Linked DNA regions of Homo sapiens. The main gene of each other region encodes a partner of the protein of the gene in region 4 in a complex. Each region holds a gene or a part of one and is shown on either strand. Other genes may lie near its edges.

What was found.
Region 1: SNRPD1 (region 4) and LSM3 share a complex: the UniProt entries of both Homo sapiens proteins name them as parts of the U4/U6-U5 tri-snRNP complex.
Region 2: SNRPD1 (region 4) and PRPF4 share a complex: the UniProt entries of both Homo sapiens proteins name them as parts of the U4/U6-U5 tri-snRNP complex.
Region 3: SNRPD1 (region 4) and PRPF31 share a complex: the UniProt entries of both Homo sapiens proteins name them as parts of the U4/U6-U5 tri-snRNP complex.
Region 5: SNRPD1 (region 4) and RBM48 share a complex: the UniProt entries of both Homo sapiens proteins name them as parts of the minor spliceosome.
Region 6: SNRPD1 (region 4) and SNRPB share a complex: the UniProt entries of both Homo sapiens proteins name them as parts of the SMN-Sm complex.
Region 7: SNRPD1 (region 4) and PRPF6 share a complex: the UniProt entries of both Homo sapiens proteins name them as parts of the U4/U6-U5 tri-snRNP complex.

What each region holds. Positions count from the first base shown.
Region 1 is NC_000003.12:14,181,817-14,185,316, reverse strand, and holds part of LSM3 (U6 snRNA-associated Sm-like protein LSm3), read right to left. Parts: intron 1,381-3,500; coding exon 1,285-1,380; intron 1-1,284. UniProt on the Homo sapiens protein: Plays a role in pre-mRNA splicing as component of the U4/U6-U5 tri-snRNP complex that is involved in spliceosome assembly, and as component of the precatalytic spliceosome (spliceosome B complex).
Region 2 is NC_000009.12:113,278,658-113,282,157, reverse strand, and holds part of PRPF4 (U4/U6 small nuclear ribonucleoprotein Prp4), read right to left. Parts: intron 3,214-3,500; coding exon 3,027-3,213; intron 1-3,026. UniProt on the Homo sapiens protein: Plays a role in pre-mRNA splicing as component of the U4/U6-U5 tri-snRNP complex that is involved in spliceosome assembly, and as component of the precatalytic spliceosome (spliceosome B complex).
Region 3 is NC_000019.10:54,125,754-54,128,983, forward strand, and holds part of PRPF31 (U4/U6 small nuclear ribonucleoprotein Prp31), read left to right. Parts: intron 1-746; coding exon of another isoform or gene 747-774; coding exon 775-864; intron 865-2,319; coding exon 2,320-2,447; intron 2,448-2,551; coding exon 2,552-2,624; intron 2,625-3,230. UniProt on the Homo sapiens protein: Involved in pre-mRNA splicing as component of the spliceosome. Required for the assembly of the U4/U5/U6 tri-snRNP complex, one of the building blocks of the spliceosome.
Region 4 is NC_000018.10:21,629,314-21,631,666, forward strand, and holds part of SNRPD1 (small nuclear ribonucleoprotein Sm D1), read left to right. Parts: 3' UTR 1-2,353. UniProt on the Homo sapiens protein: Plays a role in pre-mRNA splicing as a core component of the spliceosomal U1, U2, U4 and U5 small nuclear ribonucleoproteins (snRNPs), the building blocks of the spliceosome.
Region 5 is NC_000007.14:92,531,795-92,535,294, forward strand, and holds part of RBM48 (RNA-binding protein 48), read left to right. Parts: intron 1-609; coding exon 610-755; intron 756-2,443; exon of another isoform or gene 2,444-2,607; coding exon 2,608-3,176; coding exon of another isoform or gene 3,177-3,290; exon of another isoform or gene 3,291-3,500. UniProt on the Homo sapiens protein: As a component of the minor spliceosome, involved in the splicing of U12-type introns in pre-mRNAs.
Region 6 is NC_000020.11:2,461,142-2,464,465, reverse strand, and holds the end of SNRPB (small nuclear ribonucleoprotein-associated proteins B and B'), read left to right. Parts: intron 1-566; coding exon 567-719; intron 720-1,238; coding exon 1,239-1,377; intron 1,378-1,418; exon of another isoform or gene 1,419-1,514; intron 1,515-1,704; coding exon 1,705-1,830; intron 1,831-2,526; coding exon 2,527-2,537; 3' UTR 2,538-2,672; coding exon of another isoform or gene 2,673-2,710; 3' UTR 2,711-2,824; downstream 2,825-3,324. UniProt on the Homo sapiens protein: Plays a role in pre-mRNA splicing as a core component of the spliceosomal U1, U2, U4 and U5 small nuclear ribonucleoproteins (snRNPs), the building blocks of the spliceosome.
Region 7 is NC_000020.11:63,987,632-63,991,131, forward strand, and holds part of PRPF6 (pre-mRNA-processing factor 6), read left to right. Parts: intron 1-3,500. UniProt on the Homo sapiens protein: Involved in pre-mRNA splicing as component of the U4/U6-U5 tri-snRNP complex, one of the building blocks of the spliceosome.

The DNA.
Region 1 (3,500 bases), on a different chromosome or scaffold from region 4:
ACAGTAGCACGATCTCAGCTTACCGCAACCTCTACCTCCCAGGTTCAAGTGATTCTCCTGCCTCAGCCTCCCGAGTAGCTGGGATTGCCAGTGCCTGCCGCCACGGCCGGCTAATATTTTGTATTTTTAGTAGAGACAGGGTTTTGCCATGTTGGCCAGGGTGGTCTCGAACTCCTGACCTCAGGTGATCCACCCGCTTTGGCCTCCCAAAGTGGTGGGATTGCAGGCATGAGCCACTGCACCCAGCCTTTTTTTTTTTGAGACAGCGTTTCACTCTTGTTGACAAGGCTGGAGGGCAATGGCACAATCTCAGCTCACTGCAACCTCCGCCTCCAAGATTCAAGCAGTTCTCCTGCCTCAGCCTCCCAAGTAGCTGGGATTATAGATATATGCCACCACACCCAGCTAATTTTTTGTATTTTTAGCAGAGACAGGGCTTCACCATATTGGTCAGGCTGGTCTCGAACTCCTGACCTCAGGTGATCCACCTGCCTCAGCCTCCCAAAGTGCTAGGATTACAGGTGTGAGCCACCATGCCTGGCCAGGTTTTTTTTTTTTTTGAGACGGAGTCTCGCTCTGTCGCCCAGGCTGGAGTGCAGTGGCGGGATCTCGGCTCACTGCAAGCTCCGCCTCCCGGGTTCACGCCATTCTCCTGCCTCAGCCTCCCAAGTAGCTGGGACTACAGGCGCCCGCCACTACGCCCGGCTAATTTTTTGTATTTTTAGTAGAGACGGGGTTTCACCGTTTTTTTAGCCGGGATGGTCTCGATCTCCTGACCTCGTGATCCGCCCGCCTCGGCCTCCCAAAGTGCTGGGATTACAGGCGTGAGCCACCGCGCCCGGCCCAGGTTTTTTTAATGAATAAATATTTAAAAAATTTTTCAGTTTCAGTTTCTAATAAATTAAGTATTAATAGATCAAATCCACAGAAAACGAAAGAACACTGTCCACTATTACTGTTACACACTATTATACATAGCCACCTTGCATTGTTGTATCTCACTGAATCTGGGAACCCTATGAGGTAAGTGGTAGTATTCCTGCTCACCAATGAGAACTCAGCTAACTTAATTCCCTTGCCCAAGGTAGCCCAAGTAGGAAGTGGTCAAGCCAGTACTGGCAACAGGGTCTGTCAGATGCCAGAACCCTTGCTTTTAATTGCTATGCTCTACTGAGTCCATAAGTAGGTGTCAAAACATGACAGGCTTCCCATAAATATGGGTTAAGCTGTTCGAGAGAGAACAGCTGATATTTGCAAAGCAATGAATAGAATTGCATGACTTACTTTATATATCTCTTCATATGTTTCTTCATCAATTTCTATAGTAGTCACAGTTTCTTCCACATCTCCCAAGATCATATTTAAATGTTGATCATAAGCCTAAAGTGGGAGGGTACAGAACCAAGAAATTTAATAATCAAATTACAAAAATGATAAAGGCTTAACAATATGCAAATTGCTCAATTACAACTAGGGCATTTGATACTTACATCACAAACTTTTACATGCAAATAAAAAGTAATCCTACAGTACTAATATACTGTTTCTTCACAAGTCACTTCCAATGATTACTTAATTGACCTGATAAAAATATAAAACTGCTTATATTGCCAAAAATAAATTTACTTCAAATCACTTGAAATTATTTTTAAAGTCTCCACCCCACTTGTTATCTAAGGCAGTCACATCATTTATAATATTTAATTATGAAAAACAGCAGATTCATCTTCATCATTTATCAGTAGACATCCTTCAATTTCACCTATAACAATCTGACAAGAAAAATACAGTAAAGAAGATAAAATCCTTTGTTTACTGGTAAGATAATGCCATTGCAGTCTTCTAAAGGCACACAGTAGACCACATGTCGCAGAGAGAAAGTAAGTAGAGCAACACCCTGCCCATTTCTAACCTATCCAGAACTTAAATGTGTTTAGTACCTGTGGGCTCAATCAATAAATGTTACAGCTAAGATATTCAATCCAAGCTCCAAAGTTCATTCATTTTACTAAAAGGTGCACTTTCTGGGACCTTGTTCAGAACTCAAGTTTACTTCTAACAACGTGTTACATGGTTCACCTGCTCACATCAAAATAAAAGTCACTTGTCAGCCATGTGGGGAACTGCTAAGCAGGGCACACTAACAAGATCAAACATGTATAGCTGAGAGGCACAAAACAAACAGAAAGTTGGGGCCATTTAGGATAGAGACCATCAAGTTTACACAGGGAACTGAAGAAGCCTCCAAGAGCCACAAACTTAAGTAATTAAACTCAATTCCATTTGTATTCCCAAAGTTACCACCATTCCTTTCCTGGAGTCTCTCTTCCTTTAAGGCCAGCTGTAGATTGTCTCCCTGGGTCCCTATTTCCTTTCCAAGCCCAGAGGTTCTTTATCTTTAGGTTTTGTGGAAGGCGGAACCACAGTACTTAAGAGTGGGGCTCAGGTCAGACAACCTAGATTCAAATTCTGGCTCTCCCTTTACCGTCAAGTGACTGTACCTTTCTGAGCCTGAGCTTCCTACACTGCAAAGCAGGAATAATTAGTATGTATCATCATAGGGTTGTTATAAAGATTAAATGAGATATCACACACAAAATGCTTAGAATAATAGTACCTGGTCTATAATTAATGCTCAATAAATGTTAGCTATTTTTAATCACTTTAGGGTAGAGTAGCAATACTAAAAACAACACACTTAGGAAAGTAACAAGTCATTAAGGAGAGGCAAAACCTTCAGGGTTCTCTATGAACAAATGGGATTATTTCAAGGGACCAATTCTACAGATATTTTGCAGATATGCACAAAGAAATATGTAAAAAAATGCTTACTGCAAGTATTTACGTATTTGTAGCAAGAAATGAAAAAAAATCGATCACTATCATATACAGAATCCTAGGTAGTCATTAAAAAGAATAAACGAAAATTAAATGCACTCATGATCAATTTCCAAGAAAGATTAAGTGAAAAAAAAAAAAGGTACTGAAAAACATGTATGGCAAGATCCATGTTTTGTAGAGGTAGGGTGTACATAATGCAAGTATGTGCACATGTACATATATGAGTGTATATGTGTAAACATACAGAAAAGGTAACCCAATTTTTAAATTTTATTTTTTGTAGAGACAGGGTCTCTCTATGTTGCCCAGGCTGGCAACACAGAGAACTCCTGGCCTCAAGTGATCCTCCTGCCCCAGTCTCCCAAAGTGCTGAGATTACAGGAATGAGCCACTGCACCTGGCCAAGATAATCCCATTTTTAGTAGTGATTACCAGTAGAAGAAATGGGATTTCACTTTTTACTCTATATATTTTTGTGCTGTTTAACTTTTCCTAATAAAACACATATTTGTGTTTTAAATTTAAAAAACATTTACGAATGGAGGACAAGTAAATATTATTTACAAATAAACAGAAGGGAAAAATGAAGGGAATAAAAATGTTCTATAATAAACGTATTTCTATTAAAAGAAAAAATGTTAAAAATGTGAATACATGCC
Region 2 (3,500 bases), on a different chromosome or scaffold from region 4:
TGGCTAAACTCCCAGTGTGGTTTCTCCCACTCAGTCTTCTCTATTTGGAAATTTCCAAAATTCAACTATAAGCAATTACTCTATACAGTTTAGAGTCAATGAGCCCCTACACTGCTACCACTTGGTCTGTGAAGACTGCCAACTTTCACTCAGTGCCACAATGTACTGGATACTGACTCAGGTGCTAACTATACAGTGATGACTAGGAATCAGTTCTTGATTTCAAGTAGCTTAGTCCTGGGGAAACAACAGAGAGTACTGGCAAACTATAATCCATTATATTACCTATCACTATAGCAGTAAGCACAGAGGGCTAGAGGGGACTTTGTAACGGGCATCTAACTAAGCTTAGAGGATCAGGGAAGGCTTCATTAAAAAAAGGTAATATGTAAATTGAGTCCTCAGTTAATCAGGTCAAGGGGGTCAAGAATGAGAAAATGTCAGGCAGAGGGTTAAACAAATAAGGCCTGGAGGTAAGAAAAACATGTTGAGCTTGCAGTCACAAATAATTCAATATGGCTGGAGCGTAGAACATAGAAGAGGACTGGTGAAGAATAGGGCTGCAAATGCAAGGAGGAGCCAGGTCACAAAGAATTGCTAATGCCACGCTCAGGAGGATTTACAGATGAGAAAGATCCCTGAAACAGTACAAAGAATGGATTAAAAGGGAAGAATAATGGCAGGGAAATCAGACAGTACTGTTGTAGTGACGCTCTGAGTCACAACCGTGGACTGAAATTCAGATAGTAGCAGTAGTGACTCAAAGGATTCATTTAAGGAACATAATAATGAATAAGATAGACTTTGCTGGTGGAAAAAACAAACTAAACAATAATAAAAAAGTATACCCTTTGAAAAGGCTAATAAAATAACATACTATGACAGAGAACAGAGGGGTTAGGTGTGACGAAAGGCTTCTTTGAATAGGTGGCATCTATGCTGAAACGAAAGAATAAGAAGTTTGACAGGGATCCAGGTTAATAAAAAATGAAGAAGAAAGGCCGGGCGCGGTAGCTCACATCTGTAATCCCAGCACTTTGGGAGGCCCAGGCAGGCGGATCACTTGAGGAGGTGTTGAGAGGATCACTTGAGGAGGTGTTCAACACCTGGCCAACGTGTTGAAACCCCGTCTCTACTAAAAATACAGAAATTAGCCAGGCATGGTGGCACATGCCTGTAGTCCCAGCTACTTGGGAGGCTGAGGCAGGAGAATGGCTTGTACCTGGGAGGTGGAGGTTGCAGTGAGCTGAGATTGCACCACCGCACTCCACCCTGGGTGACAGAGCGAGACTCCGTTTCAAAGAAAAAAAAAGGAAGAAAAAAAGCCTCTAAAAGACAAGACAGAAGAATAAAAGTAGACCAATTATGTGGAAAGACATAAAAAGAACTAGCATATTCCATAAGGACCAATGTGGCTATTCTAGTAAATTGGGGAAGGGAGACATGAGTAAGGCTGAAGACCTTACAGACCATGGTAAGAGTTTTTTACTCCAAGTATGAGAAGACAATCTAGGATTTTAAGCAAGCAATTAACACAACATGTTTGGGGCTATCACAACAGTGCAGATTTGAAAGCAGTAAAGATAGAGCAAAGAAGATAGCTGGAGTTGTATCTCGCAAGTAGAACAGACCAGATTTTGCTAATGGATTATAAAGGAGGCTAGGCAGATTTTCAACTAAGAATTGTATGAGTATAGGAGAGAGGTGGGGAAATATTTCAATTCAGATGTCTCAAGTTTGAAGTACCTGTGGGATACCTAAGCTGCAGTGAGAGATTTGGGAATCATCAGAACACACAGTGAATGATGCCATGGGAGTAGAGCTGATCACCAAGGGCAAGTAGAGAAAAAGGCAGCCTGTAAAGGGCAGGCAGAGAAAAAGAGGTTTAGAAGGTAAGTGAGAAGAATTAGCTAGTGAGAGAAGAGGAAAATCAAGAGGATTTGTTATTAGGAGAGTGAAGGAAAGGGAGTAGTTCAAGGAGGGAGTATTTCAAGGAGGAGTGGCTGGCAGTATACTAGGGCTATTCTTAGTAAAGGTGGATTGGTGATCTTAACAAAGAGCAATTTTAATGTGGTAGGGGTTGGTCAGTTTGCAGCAGGTTGAAGAGTAAATAAGGGTAAGGACCTCAAGGGAGTAATAGAAAAAACCCTTCCAACAAGCTGGATGATGAAGGGTAGATGAGACAGTGGACAGAGAGACCAGAGGGGCTCCTCATAATTGTGTGTGACTAGACCACAACTAAGACTTCGCAACCTGCAAATAACAAGAGGGCATTATCTGAGGATGGTACCCCTCTTCAATAAAATCCAAGAAACATTTATCATTGTTCTATGTCATTGATATGGAATGCATTTGATGTCTCAATTTTCAAAGCCCAACAACAAATGTTTATCCAATTCAAAACTCGCACTGGGGAGGGGAGGCAAGGGAGCATGTTAGCACCCTCTTCCAAGTCTATAAAGAAAAACGGGCCAGGCACGAAGGCTCACGCTTGTAATCCCAGCACTTTGGGAGGCCAAGGTGGGTAAATCATTTGAGGTTAGGAGTTCAAGACCAGCCTGGCCAACATGGTGAAACCCTGTCTCTACTAAAAATACAAAAATATAAAAAATAACTAAAAATACAAAAAAGAAAAATGTGGTGGCAGGTGCCTGTAATCCCAGCCACTTGGGAGGCTGAGGCAGGAAAATCGCTTGAACCCGGGAGGCGGAGGCTGCAGTGAGCCGAGATCACGACGCTGCACTCAAGCCTGGGTGACAGAGCAAGACTCTGTCTCAAAACACAAAACAAAACAAAACAAAACAAAACAAAACAAAACAAAAACGAACAAACACAAAAAAGAAACATTAATAGTGCGGTAAAAATTGGCCTAAGACAGATTATGGGCTAACTCATATAAACACAGTAAGATATTGTTAACATGATTTGAGACATTCTATTAAAGTTCAACTAAATGATCAACCAAAATTTGGAGTAGAACCCTGTGATTATAATAAAGAAAAAAAGTAAATATTTAGAAAGGCAACCTTTCTCTTCTTTCAGCAGGACCCTCTCCAAAAAGTGTGATGGGTTCCCCCAAGGCTCTAAGGCAAGCTTTGACCTCTGAGTCATCTGTGGAAACATTGATCTGCCGGGCTCGCTTCCTTCTCTCAAACTCAGCCAATACTTCTGCCTGTCGCTCGCTGATATGCTCTTCAATTTCAAACACTTCTCCTATTAAAAAGAAAACAGGCAACATCAGCAGATCTTCTTCAAATAGAGAGAAATAATTTCTAGTAATTGCAGTCTGTGTATGCCCTGAGGGAAAAGTAACTGTCTATTACACATTTTATAGTTTACTGTTTTTCAGTTTATTAAATTATGCCAAACACATAAACCTAAATGACACAGCTTCAAAAGGCAAGAAAATGGTTCAAGCCACCTCTTGTTTCATTTATTAACTTTGTGCCTATATAAACACACACTTTGGCTGAGACCAGCAAGTAAGAGTACAGAACATC
Region 3 (3,230 bases), on a different chromosome or scaffold from region 4:
CCCAGGGAGGCTGGCAGGTCACCCCATCCTGGGAGGAGAGAGAGTGGGCGATAGAACCCAGGACGGGTGGGCCTGGGGCTCGGGGCTCCAGCTGCCTCACTGCACCCCTGCCATCGCCACCGCCTCACAGCCCTGGGCATATGGGTTAAACCTGCCCCAGGGAGCCTGATGTCTTGTCACCCAGGCCTCTGCCTCTTCATTTGGCCATCTCACATCGGTCCAGGCACAGGCCGTAGACACCACAGGCCTGTAAGGGAGGCCAGGGCTGGCCATCGCTTCACTGTGGCTGACAGCTGGGCTCTGTTTGCAGTTTGGATTGGAACCCTGGCTCCATCACCTGCTGGCTGTCTCCCTGGCCACATGACTTGAAGCCTTGGTTTCCACATCTGAAAAGGGGGTGCAATGATCACACCAGCCCGATATTTGAATATTTGATGAGATGATCCGAGGGGCGTGCTTAGCATGGGGCTGGCATCCAGGCCGAGTGCACTCCCCCCGGCGTCTCCACAGTCACCACCGTCCTCGTTGTCAGCGTGCCTTACTGTCATCCTTACCTGATGGCCACTTATCAGCTGGGACATGGCTCTGTGCCCTGCCCTCATCCCCTCTTCCTGTGAAGTAGGAGCTGAGAGCACACACCTCTAGAGCCCAAGGGTGGAAAGCCCCCTTCCAGGACCCCAGGTAGAGCCAGAGGAGGAGCGCGCGCGGTTGCTTTGCTGTTACCTCTGTCTGTCTGTCTCACACAGATTCCACCCCCGTTTTCCGTTGCTCCAGGATCTGCGGCGGAAAGCGGCCCGGCTGGTGGCCGCCAAGTGCACACTGGCAGCCCGTGTGGACAGTTTCCACGAGAGCACAGAAGGGAAGGTGAGGAGGGAAAGGTGAGGGGCGGCCGGGCGTCTTTTCCTCTGGGCCTGGGGTGTCTCTGCAGGGAGACCCTCAGCAGGGAGCCCACCCCAGCGAGCACTGTCCTACCAAGGCGGAGGCAGTGCTTCTGCCCACCCTCCCTGGGGTCAGGCACCCCCTTCCCCAGTGGGGTTTCCTAGGTCTGCTGTTGGAAGGTAGCATGAACCTACTGGCTTAAAACAGTGCAGGTGTGGCCGGGTGCAGTAGCTCACGCCTGTAATCCCAGCACTTTGGGAGGCCAGGGTGGGCGGGTCACAAGGTCAGGAGTTTGAGACCAGCCTGGCCAACATGGTGAAACCCCATCTCTACCAAAATTAGCCGGGTGTGGTGGCACGCACCTGTAATCCCAGTTACTCAGGAGGCTGAGGCAGGAGAATTGCTTGAACCTGGGAGACGGAGGTTGCAGTGAACTGAGATTGCATCATTGCACTCCAGCTTGGGTGACATAGCGAGACTCCATCTAAAAACAAAAACAAAAAACAGTACAGGTTTATTATCTGTGGTCCTGTAGGTCAGAAGTCCAAAATGAGTTTCACTGGGCTGAAGTCAGGGTGTCATCCTGGAGCGTTCCTTCTGGGGGATTCAAGGGATAATCCATTCCCTGGTCTTTTCCAGCTTCTAGGGGTCACTGGCACCCCTTAGCTCGTGGCCCTCCCTCTGTCTGCGGAGCCAGCCACATAGCACCCTCAGACCTCTCTCTGACTCTGCTTCTGTCTTCATATCTCCGCCTCTGTTTTTGTTCCCCTCTTCTATTTTAAGGGCCCCTGTGGCTATACTGAGCCTACTCAGATGGTCCAGGATAGTCTTCCCAGCTCACAATCCTTAAAATCCTTCTTAACCTCTTCACGTCCCTTTTGCCCTGTGATTCTGGGAATTAGAACATGGGCCTCTTTGGGCATGTGTGTGTTGGTGGGGGCGTAATTTGCCTTCCACACCAGGATCTGTCCCCGCTGCAACAGGGGATGTTATTCAAGTAATTATTCAGTTACCTTCTGTCTTCCTTGGTAGATGTACTCGGGAGAGGAGACGTTTTCTGTCTTGTGAACTGTCGTTTGCCAAGCACCCGGCCTGGCACAGCGTTCAGGTGTTCCGTGTCCCCTTCTCCTTTCCCTCTCCCCATCTCACCCCTGGTCTGGGTGTGGGGGTGCAGCTGTGAGTAGCACAGACAGGACCCCTGCCCCGTGGCGTGGACATTCTTGTTGGGGCCGGGTCAAAGAGACAGTCAACAGGTGAACTCTGTCCTGCGTCTAGCGGTGCTAAGTCAACACCAAGAAGAAAAAGAAAGGGGGTGGCGGTGAGGCAGCATTAGGTGCTGATTTAACTAAGGCACGTGGATACTCGGGGGGCCCGCTCAGAGGAGGCCTGGGTGGGCAGCCCACGCGAGCAGCTGCAGGACCTCCCCCTCGCCCTCCCCAGGTGGGCTACGAACTGAAGGATGAGATCGAGCGCAAATTCGACAAGTGGCAGGAGCCGCCGCCTGTGAAGCAGGTGAAGCCGCTGCCTGCGCCCCTGGATGGACAGCGGAAGAAGCGAGGCGGCCGCAGGTGAGGGGCCCTGGGGGTCCGGTAGGCATGGGGGTCATGGAGGGGAGAAGCCGGCGTCCTCCTCCCAGCCGACTCCCTGGCGCCGCCCACCCACCCGTCCCCAGGTACCGCAAGATGAAGGAGCGGCTGGGGCTGACGGAGATCCGGAAGCAGGCCAACCGTATGAGCTTCGGAGAGGTCAGACTCCCAGAGCGCCCTCCTCAACCCCACAGCCAGCCAGCCGCCACCGCCCTCTGCCTCCTGCCACCGCCCCTCCTCTCGTCCTGTGGCCCTGGCTCATGTCTAGGGCGCTGCCCCAGCCTCCCCCCCCCCGGCCTCTATTCTCGTTTCCATCCGTTCAGCCCCAAAGCGACCCTCGCGACCCTTGGAGCCTGTGTCTCCGCTGCTTAGAGCCCCCGCGGCTTCCCATCGCCCCGGGCTCCTTGGCCGGTTCCTCCCTGCCCAGAGGCTCCTTAGTGCCCTGCTGCACGGCCGCCCCGTCCCTGGGCCCCGCCAGTCTCCTCTGTTATCCCAGCGTCATCCCCTTGGTCCTGCAGGACCGAACTCAGAGGCCACCTCATCCTATTAAACCTGTTCTGGTTCCTGACATCCCCCGACCCACACGAGTAAGGAAGGAATGGCCTCCCAACTCTGAGCTCACAGAGCAGTGCTGGGACCGGGCCCCTCTCAGGCTCCCCAGCATCCCCCGCGTGTGTGGGCCCCCAGGCCTCAGCCGGGCCGAGTGGGTACCGGAGCAGGTGCCCGTGGGACCGGCCGGCTGGTGACCGCTGGGCTTCGGGCTGG
Region 4 (2,353 bases):
TCTACTGGGCAGTTTCATTTTTAGTTGATCAGGTTTTAAGTTTTTGAACTAAAATTTTTCTTTTTCTTTTTATGATGAATAAGGTTAAAATAAAAGCCTTAGACAAATTAAATTTGGCAGAGTTTAATTGAGCAAAGGACAATTCACAAATCAGGTAGCCCCTGAACCATAATAGGCTCAGAGGCTTCAGCCCAGCTGCATAGTTGAAGATTTATGGACAGAAGGAAAGTGATGTATGGAAAATGGAAGTGAGATACAGCAACAGCCGGATTAGTTACAGTTCAGCGTTTGCCTTATTTGAATATGGTTTGAACAGTTCGCTGTCTTTGGTTGGCTGAAACTTAGTGATTGCCACAAGAGTAGGGTACCGTCTGTTTACACGTCCAGTTAGGCTACAGTTCTATGTACTGAGAAACCTTTAAGCTGAACTTGAGATATGTAAAGAGACTTTAGGCTAAACTTAACAATATATATAGGATATATACCCTTCTACTTCACATGCACTGAATATGCATTTTATTGCTTTACTCTTCATTCTGTGGCACCTACCCACAGGGGAAGTAAGAAGTTTGTTTTGGTATTTCGGAAACTAAAGTCCTTATGGGATGGGGTCTAGAATTGATTCTCCTTTCCTGAGTTTTACTCCACGGAGTCTTAGGTACCTGGTAAAAAGTTGTCTTCTAAATTAAGGGTCATTGCTTTGTTGTCTAGCTGCTAATGTCTTACTTTTGTTTCTTTTGCTTTTTAATCAGTTCTTAATAGGATATAGTTTTATGTTTTCCAAGTTATAACTTGGAGTTAATGGTCACTAGATTATCAGTTATGAGCAGTGTTAAAATCTCCTATTAATGTGTAATGTACCTGTCAGTGCCTCCTTTATTAAGGGGTTCTTTGAGAATAAAAGAGAAAAGACCTACTTTATTTGACAGCAAAACTGTTCTAATTGTTAATAAGGACTTTTAAAAATTGTTTTTGATTTGCTAAGCTCAGAAAAAATGTCTCTCAGTGCATCAGTTCTTTGTAAAGCTTACTACGAAGTATTTATATGCTAAGGAAAACAACTGAGGATGTGGGTGGCTTAAATCTGTATTTTCATCATGTATGTGAGTTTTTTTTTTTTTAAGTAAAGAAATTTTCTGCAAAGATCGTTACCTTAAAAAAGTTTAGCCTGGGTGTGGTGGCTCACGCCTGTAATCCCAGCACTTTGGGAGGCCGAGGCAGGTGGATCACGAGGTCAGGAGTTGAAGACCAGCTTGGCCAAGAGGGTGAAACCCCATTTCTACTAAAAATACAAAAGTTAGCCAGGTGCAGTGACAGGCGCCTGTAATCCCAGCTACTCATGAGGCCGAGGCAGGAGAATTGCTTGAACCCAGGAGGCGGAGGTTGCAGTGAGCCGAGATTGTGCCACTGCACTCCAGCCTGGGCGATGGAGTGAGACTACGTCTCAAAAAAAAATCGAGAGAGAGATATATATATGTATTTATATATATATGTATTTATACTAATATATAAATATATACTAATAGATATATTAGTATACATGTAGAATGTACCTGTCATATATATTAGATATATAAATGTATATATTGGTATAAATAAATACTAGATATATATTTTTTTAAGTATCTTACCTCATCAAGTAAATTCAAATGCTTTTTGATTTTTCCACAGTTGATAATTTTTTTTTGTAAGTCATTGAAGTTATATAGTAATTAGCGTTTTTTCCCCCACAAATTATTGGCAGTGGTCACCCAGTTGTATTACAGGTTCTATGATCCAAAAAGGGATGTATGAAATTCATGATGATTAAGACAATTTTTTCTTTCTTTCTTTTGAGACAGAGTCTTGCTGTGTCACCCAGGCTGGAGTGCAGTGGTGCGATCTTGGCTCACTGCAACCTCTGCGTCCCGGGTTCAAGAGATTATTGTGCCTCAGCCTCCAGAGTAGCTGGGATTATAAGCGTGCGCCACCACACCCAGCTAATTTTTTTGTATTTTTAGTAGAGACGGGGTTTCACCATGTTGGCCAGACTTAAGACAATTCTTTAATAGTAAATATATTAAAGGTGAGTTGGCTTGACAAGATACAACCAATATGTAATTTTTCTCCACACGTTTTTTTTTTTTTTTTTTTTTTTTTTCTGGAGACAGTCTTGCTCTGTTGCCCAGGCTGGAGTACAGTGGCGCGATCTTGGCTCACTGCAAGCTCTGCCTCCCGGGTTCAGGCCATTCTCCTGCCTCAGCCTCCCGAGTAGCTGGGACTACAGGTGCCTGCCACCACACCCAGCTAATTTTTTGTCTTTTTAGTAGAGACGGGGTTTCACTGTGTTAGGATGGTCTCGTTCTCCTGACCT
Region 5 (3,500 bases), on a different chromosome or scaffold from region 4:
AGCGCTTATGACATTGCCTGGCATATGGTGAAATCTCAACAAGTATTTATCATTATCCCTGGATATAGAAGTAGTTAAATTTATTGTAGTACCTGGCCAGTCATAGATGTTTAGTAAGTATTTATTGACTGAATAACATTCTTCTCATTTTCTCATTGTTATATATTTAATAGTTCCTCAGTTATTGAATGTTTTATGATTATAGTATCTTTCATCTGATTTTTAAGGCATGAATCCCATCACAGAAATACATAGTGCTGAAAAAGCTTAATTGGGTATGAACCAACTCTTCAGGGCCACAGAGAAAAGCTCCATTTTATGACCACAGTTTACATACTTCAGGCCAACCAGCTGGGTCCTTAGTTGTTTAAAGACTAGGGAACAAAGAGGCTCAAAGGGAAGGAAAGGGGAGGCTCTACGAGTACATACTCGATCAATGGGATGAATACTGTCCACAAGCAGAGCATCTTAATTCCCAATCCACAGGATATATATACACGTAGCAAAAGCTGGACTTTGCTCTTTAGATCCAGATATTGCATACTAGTTAAGCTTTCATCCCAAGTAAATCTAGATTAAAAAACTATGCTATCTTGTATTTCCATTCAGGACAGCCAAGAGAAAAATGGATGAACAGAGTTTCTTCGGTGGATTGCTTCATGTGTGCTATGCTCCAGAATTTGAAACAGTTGAAGAAACTAGAAAAAAACTACAAATGCGGAAGGCATATGTAGTAAAAACTACTGAAAATAAAGGTATGGAAAGCATATTGCTAAATGCCTCCTGTGTGTCAGGCACTCTGCCAGGTGTGTCATCATGCAATTCCCAGTCTAGTGGTAGGAGAGGCAAGTAAACCATCACAGTATTCAGTAACTGTGAACCACAGGGTTCTCTGCAGCACACTACATAATCTGGGTTGAGAAGGGAGAAATATTGGTTCATAGAAGACTTCCTATAGTATGTGAGAAGTGGCTGAATTTTAAAGGATAAGTAGACGTTAACTAAATGGGAGAGGAAAAGATGGAAAGGCAAGCCAGGCAAGATGTTTAAATGTTTAGAGGAATAAATGAGCATCATGCATTTAAGGAACTTTAATTAATACAGTATAACCAAAGCCCAAAGGTTTCAGTGAGAGATAAGTTTAGAAAAGTGGGTAAGAAGTGAATCATGGAGGGCCTTGTGTCCCATGCTAAGGAATTAAGGCTTTGACCAGAATGCAGTGAGAAGCAGTTATGATTTGCAGTTGTCAAATCATATAGTTGTCACTGCTAATCATGGAGAAGTTCTACTTTTGACCAGCAATTGGCTAAATGCCCCCACATGCCTGTTCTACCACATAGTGATGGAGAGAAATAAAGTGGGAAAACTCTTGGAAAACTTACTCAGAAATCTGGTAAGAGAGCTGTTGAGAATCCCCAGTCATCTGCAGACATTGAACTCTAACTTGTAAGATAAGTAAATAAATAGCACCAGGAAAACTTGTATGTTTGTGTGGCAAAGGAAATTATAAAATATTAATGTGGAGAAAGACCTTTGACATTATCTGACCTGGGTCCTAATTTTTCTGGGTGAGGAAACTAAGTCTCAGAAAGTTTGTGACCTGCCTATATTATTAGAGATGAATTAAAGACAAAATAAGGGTTAAAACCCAAGCTTTGGACTCTGTCCAGAGTTTACTTTTTAACTGCTTTAATCATCTCAGTGTTGGTGACAGCCTAGGATTATCTTCATTATTTGCTCCCCTTCCTCTTAAGACCTTTTTGCTGTGCTGCTGACCTCAGAATTAAACTATGACTTGTTTGGCCTTGGACACTTTAGTTAAGCTCTCTTTCATCTGCAGCATTCTAGCCTCTACAAGATGCATTTGTATACGTGGTCTTACTTTTCAAAAACTCTTATTATGGAAATTTCAAAACACACAGGCAGAGAGACTAAGTTAACATAACTCCCATGTATTAATATTAACATTAACAATCATCAACACATAGCCAATTTCATCTTTACCACATCTTCCATACTCCATTCCTGTTGTAATCTGCTTTTGGGAGAGTAAACCAGGGAAGAGGCCCTTGCCAGCCCTAGAAGTGCGACAAGCATATTGCTTTCTTTAGTGACTAACAAACACAAGCCAAGGAGCATGATACATCCAGATAGTGGAATACTCTGAAATTGTAAAAAAAAAAAAAAAAAAAAAACCTTTCTATATAATGATGAAAAACCTCTGTAAGATCTACAGTGAAATGGAAAATGCAGAGGTGCAGAGAAATGCGTATTACAGGTTATCTTAAAGTGGGGAGAAAATGGGAGGAAGGAGGTGGCAAAGTGAGACATATTGAACAGATAAATAAAAAACAATAGTGATTACTTATGGGGATGAAACCAGACCCATGGAGAGCAAGGAAAGGGTGACACTTGATGCTATATATCTTTTTATCCGTTTTAGGTTTTAAACCATGTGAATATATACCCTTCTCAAGAAATGATTTTTTTGGAGTAGAATTTGTTAACATTTTTAAGTGATTTTTTTAAATTATATGATTCTGAATGATGAAAACAATAAACCACTTCTGTTTCCCTTTCCCTCAACTTTTAAATTGTAATATAAAGACCATTACGTGACAAAGAAGAAATTGGTTACAGAGCATAAAGACACAGAGGATTTTAGACAAGACTTCCACTCAGAGATGTCTGGATTTTGTAAAGCTGCTTTGAACACTTCTGCAGGGAACTCAAATCCTTATCTTCCGTATTCCTGTGAATTGCCTTTATGTTATTTCTCCTCAAAATGTATGTGTTCATCCGGGGGACCTGTAGACAGAGCACCAGACTCCTCTAAGGATGGTAGAAACCATCATAAAACAATGGGGCATTATAACCACAATGACTCTTTGCGGAAAACACAGATAAACTCTTTGAAAAACTCAGTGGCCTGCCCTGGTGCACAAAAGGCTATTACGTCTTCAGAGGCAGTTGACAGATTTATGCCTAGGACAACACAACTGCAGGAGCGCAAAAGAAGAAGAGAAGATGATCGTAAACTTGGAACTTTTCTTCAAACAAACCCAACTGGTAATGAGATTATGATTGGACCTCTGTTACCAGACATCTCTAAAGTGGATATGCACGATGACTCATTGAATACAACGGCGAATTTAATTCGGCATAAACTTAAAGAGGTAAGGTTATTTTTAAAAAACTATTCTAAGACACGATTTGGTTATAGGATTAAATGGAGAATTATTTGTGGGAACAATAGTACTGTAATTTTTTTTCACTTTTTAGTGTTTTGATGTGTTTTTCTACAGTTCTCTGTTGAAATAACTGAATTTGGCTAACATTTTATTTGCTTTAAACTGTTAATACTTGCTTTAAACAATGAACAGACATTTTATATCACTGTAGATACAAAATATTAAAGCAGTGGTTTCAGCCAATTAAATCAATCTGTGAGAGTGGAGCCCAGGCCTGCCATTTTTGTTAAAAGCTCCCCAGGTAGTTCT
Region 6 (3,324 bases), on a different chromosome or scaffold from region 4:
TTAAAAATGTCTGCAAGGGATGTTAGCATATCTTGGTTCAAAGTCCATGTACATATTCAAATCTCTTAGTACCTACTTCCAGTAGAATTGGCTGGTCTAACATAACCCATCATAAACCTTTGTGATCACAACCAGTTGTACCATAACCATGTCATTTGCAGATAAGGCAACTCAGCCCGGGATTGTGGGATTATTTGTCCATTGTCACCTAGCGGATTAGAATCAGCTGGGAATGGATCTCATGTCCCTTTAATGCCTTGCCTGCTGAACCCTGAGTGGAACCCTGGCCCTTTGCTCTTGGTTTAACTTTCACAGGAGTGCATATAGGTGGTTGAGTTGTGGCATGTTTCTCTAGACTTACTCTTAAGTTCTACCCTGCTTCAGGGATAACTCATAGTCTTGGATGGAGGAAGAATGGTGTTGGCACACATGGAGAGGTAGTATTTATAAGCTATTTCGATAGTATTTATAAGCTATTTCGAGGGGCTCTCTTGGCAATGATATTCCAAAGTATACTTCTGATCTTCAGATCACTGGGCATCAGAGCATATTTGTTTATTTTTCAGACTGGTATTGCTCGAGTTCCACTTGCTGGAGCTGCCGGGGGCCCAGGGATCGGCAGGGCTGCTGGCAGAGGAATCCCAGCTGGGGTTCCCATGCCCCAGGCTCCTGCAGGACTTGCTGGGCCAGTCCGTGGGGTTGGCGGGCCATCCCAACAGGTGAGGAGTTGGGGAAAGGGTACCACCTCCTGGTGGCTAAAATAAAGGATAAAGGGGAGGGTCCATAGTTTTAAAAGGGTCCAGAGTGACCAACCTGTGATTGTCAGACTATCAGTGTTTCACTGTGGTTTATACATGGCCCTAGAAGCAAGTGAAAAGGATAAGTTGCCATTGTAAATTATGTTGATGCTATTAAAGAGATGTACGAATTAGCCAACTGTATTTAAGGAAAATATTTCCATGACAGCATTTGAAATCATGAGTCATATTTGAAAATGCAGTTGCCTTCTCTCACTTGGATTGGACATGCTTACATTCAGGTCTAGAAGATGGGAGTTGGGCATTCAAGCTTGATCTTTCCCGACATGTGGTTTTGGATGGGAAGTCTGGTGCTGAGAGTTGTAGCATTAAGGGATTTGGTGTCTGTTATTTCCCACTGTCCTTCCCCAAGTTGGGGAGGAGAGTGGGAAGCTGCATTGTACTGTACTCTTCTAACTCTTTCTTCTTATGTCCTCTTAGGTGATGACCCCACAAGGAAGAGGTACTGTTGCAGCCGCTGCAGCTGCTGCCACAGCCAGTATTGCCGGGGCTCCAACCCAGTACCCACCTGGCCGTGGGGGTCCTCCCCCACCTATGGGCCGAGGAGCACCCCCTCCAGGTGAGGAGCCCATAAGGAGACCAGTGCTAATTGATAGAAGATGCCTTAGCTGGATTAATGATGAGATATAACCTTGACTGAAGCTGATGATGAGTTTGTATAATTAAGCAGGATTACTCTGAGATCCAGCGTGGCTGACTGATGAGACTAGGTGGACAAGAGCCATTGGGAGCCCTGGGTGTTAGGCTCAAATGTCAGTTTTCTGGGAGCTGCTGAGAGGGTGGAATGGTCCATCTATCTCAGAACTTGGTGGAAAGCTTTGTAGTTTTTTTGCTACCTTTTCAAGATAGACACTTGAGCTATATTCTTGGGGCTTTTCTCTTGCAGGCATGATGGGCCCACCTCCTGGTATGAGACCTCCTATGGGTCCCCCAATGGGGATCCCCCCTGGAAGAGGGACTCCAATGGGCATGCCCCCTCCGGGAATGCGGCCTCCTCCCCCTGGGATGCGAGGTAAGTGCCTGCAGTGGTGACTTTGGCTTCTTTCCCTAGAGCCTAGTGGGATAGGAAATGGAGGGAAGATTGCATTTAGATCATATCCCATGGGCTTTCAAGCCTTAAATCTAGGGAAATCCAGAAAGGAAAGAGAAGAGGGAACATTTCTTAAATTGGGCTTACCTCCCCTCTTAGAAAAGTTAGAGCAGCCATGCACCCAGGGTGTTTCTCAATATCTAAGGCAGCGGCCTCAGGACACAATGAAATAATGCATTCTGAGGATCCCTAACAGAAGTTATGAGATTGTCTTATGCTCTTTGGTTTGACAGTGCCTAGTAATTAAGAGGGGGCTCTGGGCTTTGCTGTACTATTATGGATTTCTCTTTAACTTCAGTTGGAGAAATTCTGAGATCAGTCCCCACATGGATGAGAAAATAGGCCCCCAGGGAGTTTGGACTCCAAGCCCAGTGTTCTTTCCCTATAAGATAACCCATGGGCAAACTTGGTGACCCCTGTTTCTCTAGTCTGGATTATTCCTCTATGGGTTTTTATAGACATAGGAACCCAGTCAGCCTCAGAGTAGTCCCTAGTTAGCACATATGCCATGTATACCCCTCTCCTCACTCGATTACTGCAGGGCGTGGGAGGCTGGGGCAGGGTTGGGGATTCAAGTTGCAGATCAGGCACTGACTAAACTTCTTACTCTTACTTCAGGCCTTCTTTGACCCTTGGCCACAGAGTATGGAAGTAGCTCCGCAGAGGCGTGGGCTCGATTCCTCAGGGCCACGTTACCACAGACCTGTTTGTTTCTTATGCTGTTGTTCGTGGAGTCTCATGGGATTGTCTGGTTTCCCTTACAGGGCCCCCTCCCCCGGGAATGCGCCCACCAAGGCCCTAGACTCATCTTGGCCCTCCTCAGCTCCCTGCCTGTTTCCCGTAAGGCTGTACATAGTCCTTTTATCTCCTTGTGGCCTATGAAACTGGTTTATAATAAACTCTTAAGAGAACATTATAATTGCACCTATGGATCTTTATTTTTAGAAAAATCTTTGATATATTGGGTGCTTAATAGAGTCAAGAAGGGTTGCCTTGGAAAAAATTAACCCTGATCTTACCTTCTTCCCTATAAAATGTTTTACTACCCATTTGCATCTGTACATCCTCATACACTAAGATACTTACAAAATTGAACATTTTCACTTATCAGATTCAAAGATCAGTTTTGTTGAAATCAGTACCCATAATATCCTCTTGGGAAGGCACTTGTCTAGATAGCTTCTCCATGAAGCAAATGCTAAAAATGAAAATTCTGCTGGGAGAGGAACAATTTTGGCATAACTTTCTGCCAGGGTCACACACGTAACATATAACCTAACGTAACTTTTGAATTGTGGTATCTTCATGAGTTCTTCCACCCAAAGCCTGTGTTCACTGAGCAGCACTCTAGTACTTAGTGCATCAAGCTCTAAGGGTACAAAAATAAGGTGAACACTGTTGTAAAGTTACTGTGTA
Region 7 (3,500 bases), on a different chromosome or scaffold from region 4:
GGGCATCCAGATTGGAAAAGAAGAAGTTAAATTATCCTTGTTTGCAGATGATATGATCTTATATTTAGAAAACCCTAAAGACTCTACCAAAACACTATTGGAACTGACAAATTGATTAAAGTTGCAGGCTATGCCCCCAGGTGTGGTGGCTCACACCTGTAATCCCAGCACTTTGGGAGGCTGAGGGTGGGTGGATCACCTGAGGTCAGGAGTTTGAGACCAGCCTGGCCAACAAAGAGAAACCCTGTCACTATTAAGAATACAAAAATGGCCGGGCACGGTGGCTCACGCCTGTAATCCCAGCACTTTGGGAGGCCGAGGCAGGTGGATGACTGGAGGTCAGGAGTTCGAGACCAGCCTGACCAACGTGGTGAAACCCTGTCTCTACTAAAAAAATTACAAAAGTTGCCAGGCGCTGGGACTCACGCCTGTAATCCCAGCACCTTGGGAGAGTGAGGTGGGTGGATCACTTGAGGTCAGGAGTTTGAGACCAGGCTGACCAACATAGTGAAACCCTGTCTCTACTAAAAATACAAAAATTAGCTGGGTGTAGTGGCACACGTCTGTAATCCCAGCTACTCAGGAGGCTGAGGCAAGAGAATTGCTTGAACCTAGGAGGCAAATGTTGTAGTGAGCTGAGATTGCACCACTGCACTCCAGCCTGAGTGACGGGGCAAGACTCTGTCTCAAAAAAAAAAAAAACCAAAAAACAAAAATTAGCCGGGTGTGGGGGTGCACGCCTGTAGTCCCAGCTAGTTGGGAGGCTGAGGCAGGAGAATCGCTTGAACCCAGGAGGTCGAGGTTGCAGTGAGCTGAGATTGCACCACTGCACTCCAGCCTGGGTAACAGAGTGAGACTCCATCTTAAAATAAAAGAAAATATCCATACTACCCAAAGTAATTTACAGATTCAATGCAATCCGTATCAAAATACTGGGGACATTATTAACAGATAGTGAAAAAATAGCCAGGTGCAGTGGCTCATGCCTGTAATCCCAACACTTTGGGAGGCTGAGGCAGGTGGATCACTTGAGGTCAGCAGTTCGAGACCAGCCTGGCTAAACCCCATCTCTACTAAAAATACAAAAATTAGTTGGGCATGGTGACAGGTGCCTGTAATCCCAGCTACTTGGGAGGCTGAGGCAGGAGAATCACTTGAACCTGGAAGGCAGAGGTTGCAGTCAGCTGAGATCGTGCCATTGCACTCCGGCCTGGGCAACAGAGTGAGACTCCGTCTCAAAAAAAAAAAAAGAAAAAGAAAAAATAATTCTAAAATGTACATGGAGCCAAAAAAGACCCAGAATAGGCAAAGCTATCCTGAGCAAAAGGAACAAAACTGGGGGAACACTTGACTTCAAATTATACTACAGAGCTGTAGTAACAAAAACAGCATAGTACTGGCAGAAAAACAGACACATAGACCAATGGAACAGAATGGACCCAGAAACAAATAGGTACCTCTACAGTGAACTCATTCTTGACAAATGTACCAGGAATATTTATTGGGGAAAAGACAATCTCTTCAATAAACGGTGCTGGGAAAACTGGATATCTATATACAGAAGAATGAAACTAGACCCCTCTCTGTCACCACATACAAAAATCAAATTAAAAGACTTTAAGACCTCAAGCTGAAACTACTAGAAGAAAACATTGGAGAAACTCTACAGGACATTGGACTAGGCAAAGATTTCTTGAGTAATACCCCACAAGCACAGGCAACGAACGGAAGCCAGGTGTGGTGGCTCGCTCCCGTGAGCCAAGAGTGCGCTACTGCACTCCAGCCTGGGCCACAGAGACTGTCTCAAAAAGGAAAAAAATAAAAAGTTCTCATTATAGAATATTAGGAAAATAAGAGTAAGTATGGGTAAAAGCATAACATTTATTCATAAGTCTAGAAAGTAACAGTTAACATTTTGGCTCATTTCCTCTTTCTGTTGCTTTTTTTTATCTTGGCTCACTGCAACCTCTGCCTCCCGGGTTCAAGCAATTCTCCTGCCTCAGCCTCCCAAGTAGCTGGGATTACAGGTGCCTGCCACCACGCCTGGCTAGTTTTTGTATTTTAGTAGAGACGGGGTTTCACCATGTTGGCCAGGATGGTCTCAAACTCCTGGCCTTGTGCTCCATCCACCTCGGCCTCCCAAAGTGCTGGGATTACAGACGTGAGCCACTGCGCCCAGCTCTGTTGCTTTTTATACATGTAATCATAACTTCCTGTGATGTATGTAGAATGTTTTATTTTTTGAAGATAATTTTAGAATAGTAAAATATAGTTCTTCTGGAATTTTATTTATTTTTTATTTTTTTGAGTCTCCCAGGCTCAAGTGATTCTTCTGCCTCAGCCTCCCAAGTAGCCGGGATTATAGGCACGCGCCACCACACCTGGCTAATTTTTGTGTTTTTAGTAGAGACAGGGTTTTACCATGTTGGCCAGGCCGGTCTTGAACTCCTGACCCCAAGTGATCCACCCGCCTCAGCCTCCCAAAGTGTTGGAATTACAGGTATGAGCCACCGTGCCCAGTCTTGCCACACACTTTAAACAACCAGATCTTACGTGATGTAAACTTGCTGCCTCGAGGACAGCACCAGGCCATCAGGGGTCTGCCCTCAAGACTCAAGTGGCCTCCCACCAGGCCCCACCTCAAACATTGGGAATTATAATTCAGCATGAGATTTCATGGGGACACAGATGTAAACCATATCCTTTGGCCTCCCAGAGTGCTGGGATTACAGACATAAGTCAATGTGCCTGGCCTGGACATCTTTTTAGAAGCTCGTTATTAAATCATTGTGCATAAATTTTATACCTATAGTAATTAAACGTGAATGGCATTGCATTTCACTTTTTTTTTTTTTTGGATACAGGATCTTACTCTGTCACCCAGGGTGGAGCGCGGTGGCTTGATTATAGCTCCCTGTAACCTTCAATTCCTGGCTCAAGCGATTCTCCTGCTTCAGCCTCCCAGGTAGCTGGGATTACAAGCACGTGCTACCACACCCAGCTAATTTTTCTTTTTTCTTTTTTTTTTTTTGAGATGGAGTCTCACTCTATTGCCCAGGCTGGAGTGCAATGGCGCAACCTCGGCTTACTGCAACCTCCGCCTCCAGGGTTCAAGTGATTCTCCTGCCTCAGCCTCCCAAGTGGCTGGGATTACAGGCATGCACCGCCACGCCCGGCTGATTTTTGTAGAGATGGGTATTTTTAGTAGAGACGGGGTTTCACCAATGTTAGCCAGGCTGGTCTTGAACTCCTGCCCTTGTGATCTGCCTGCCTTGGCCTCCCAAGGTGCTGGGATTACAGGCTTGAGCCACCACGCCAGGCTCACACCCAGCTAATTTTTGTCTATGTTGCCCAGGCTGGTCTTGAACTCCTGGCCTCAAGTGATCCACCTGCCTCCCCTAACCTTGGCCTCCCAAAGTGCTAGGATTACAGGCATGAGTTACTACACTCAGCCCTACATTTTAAAAATTGATTGGAACCTCCAGGGTTAATGCATTTTA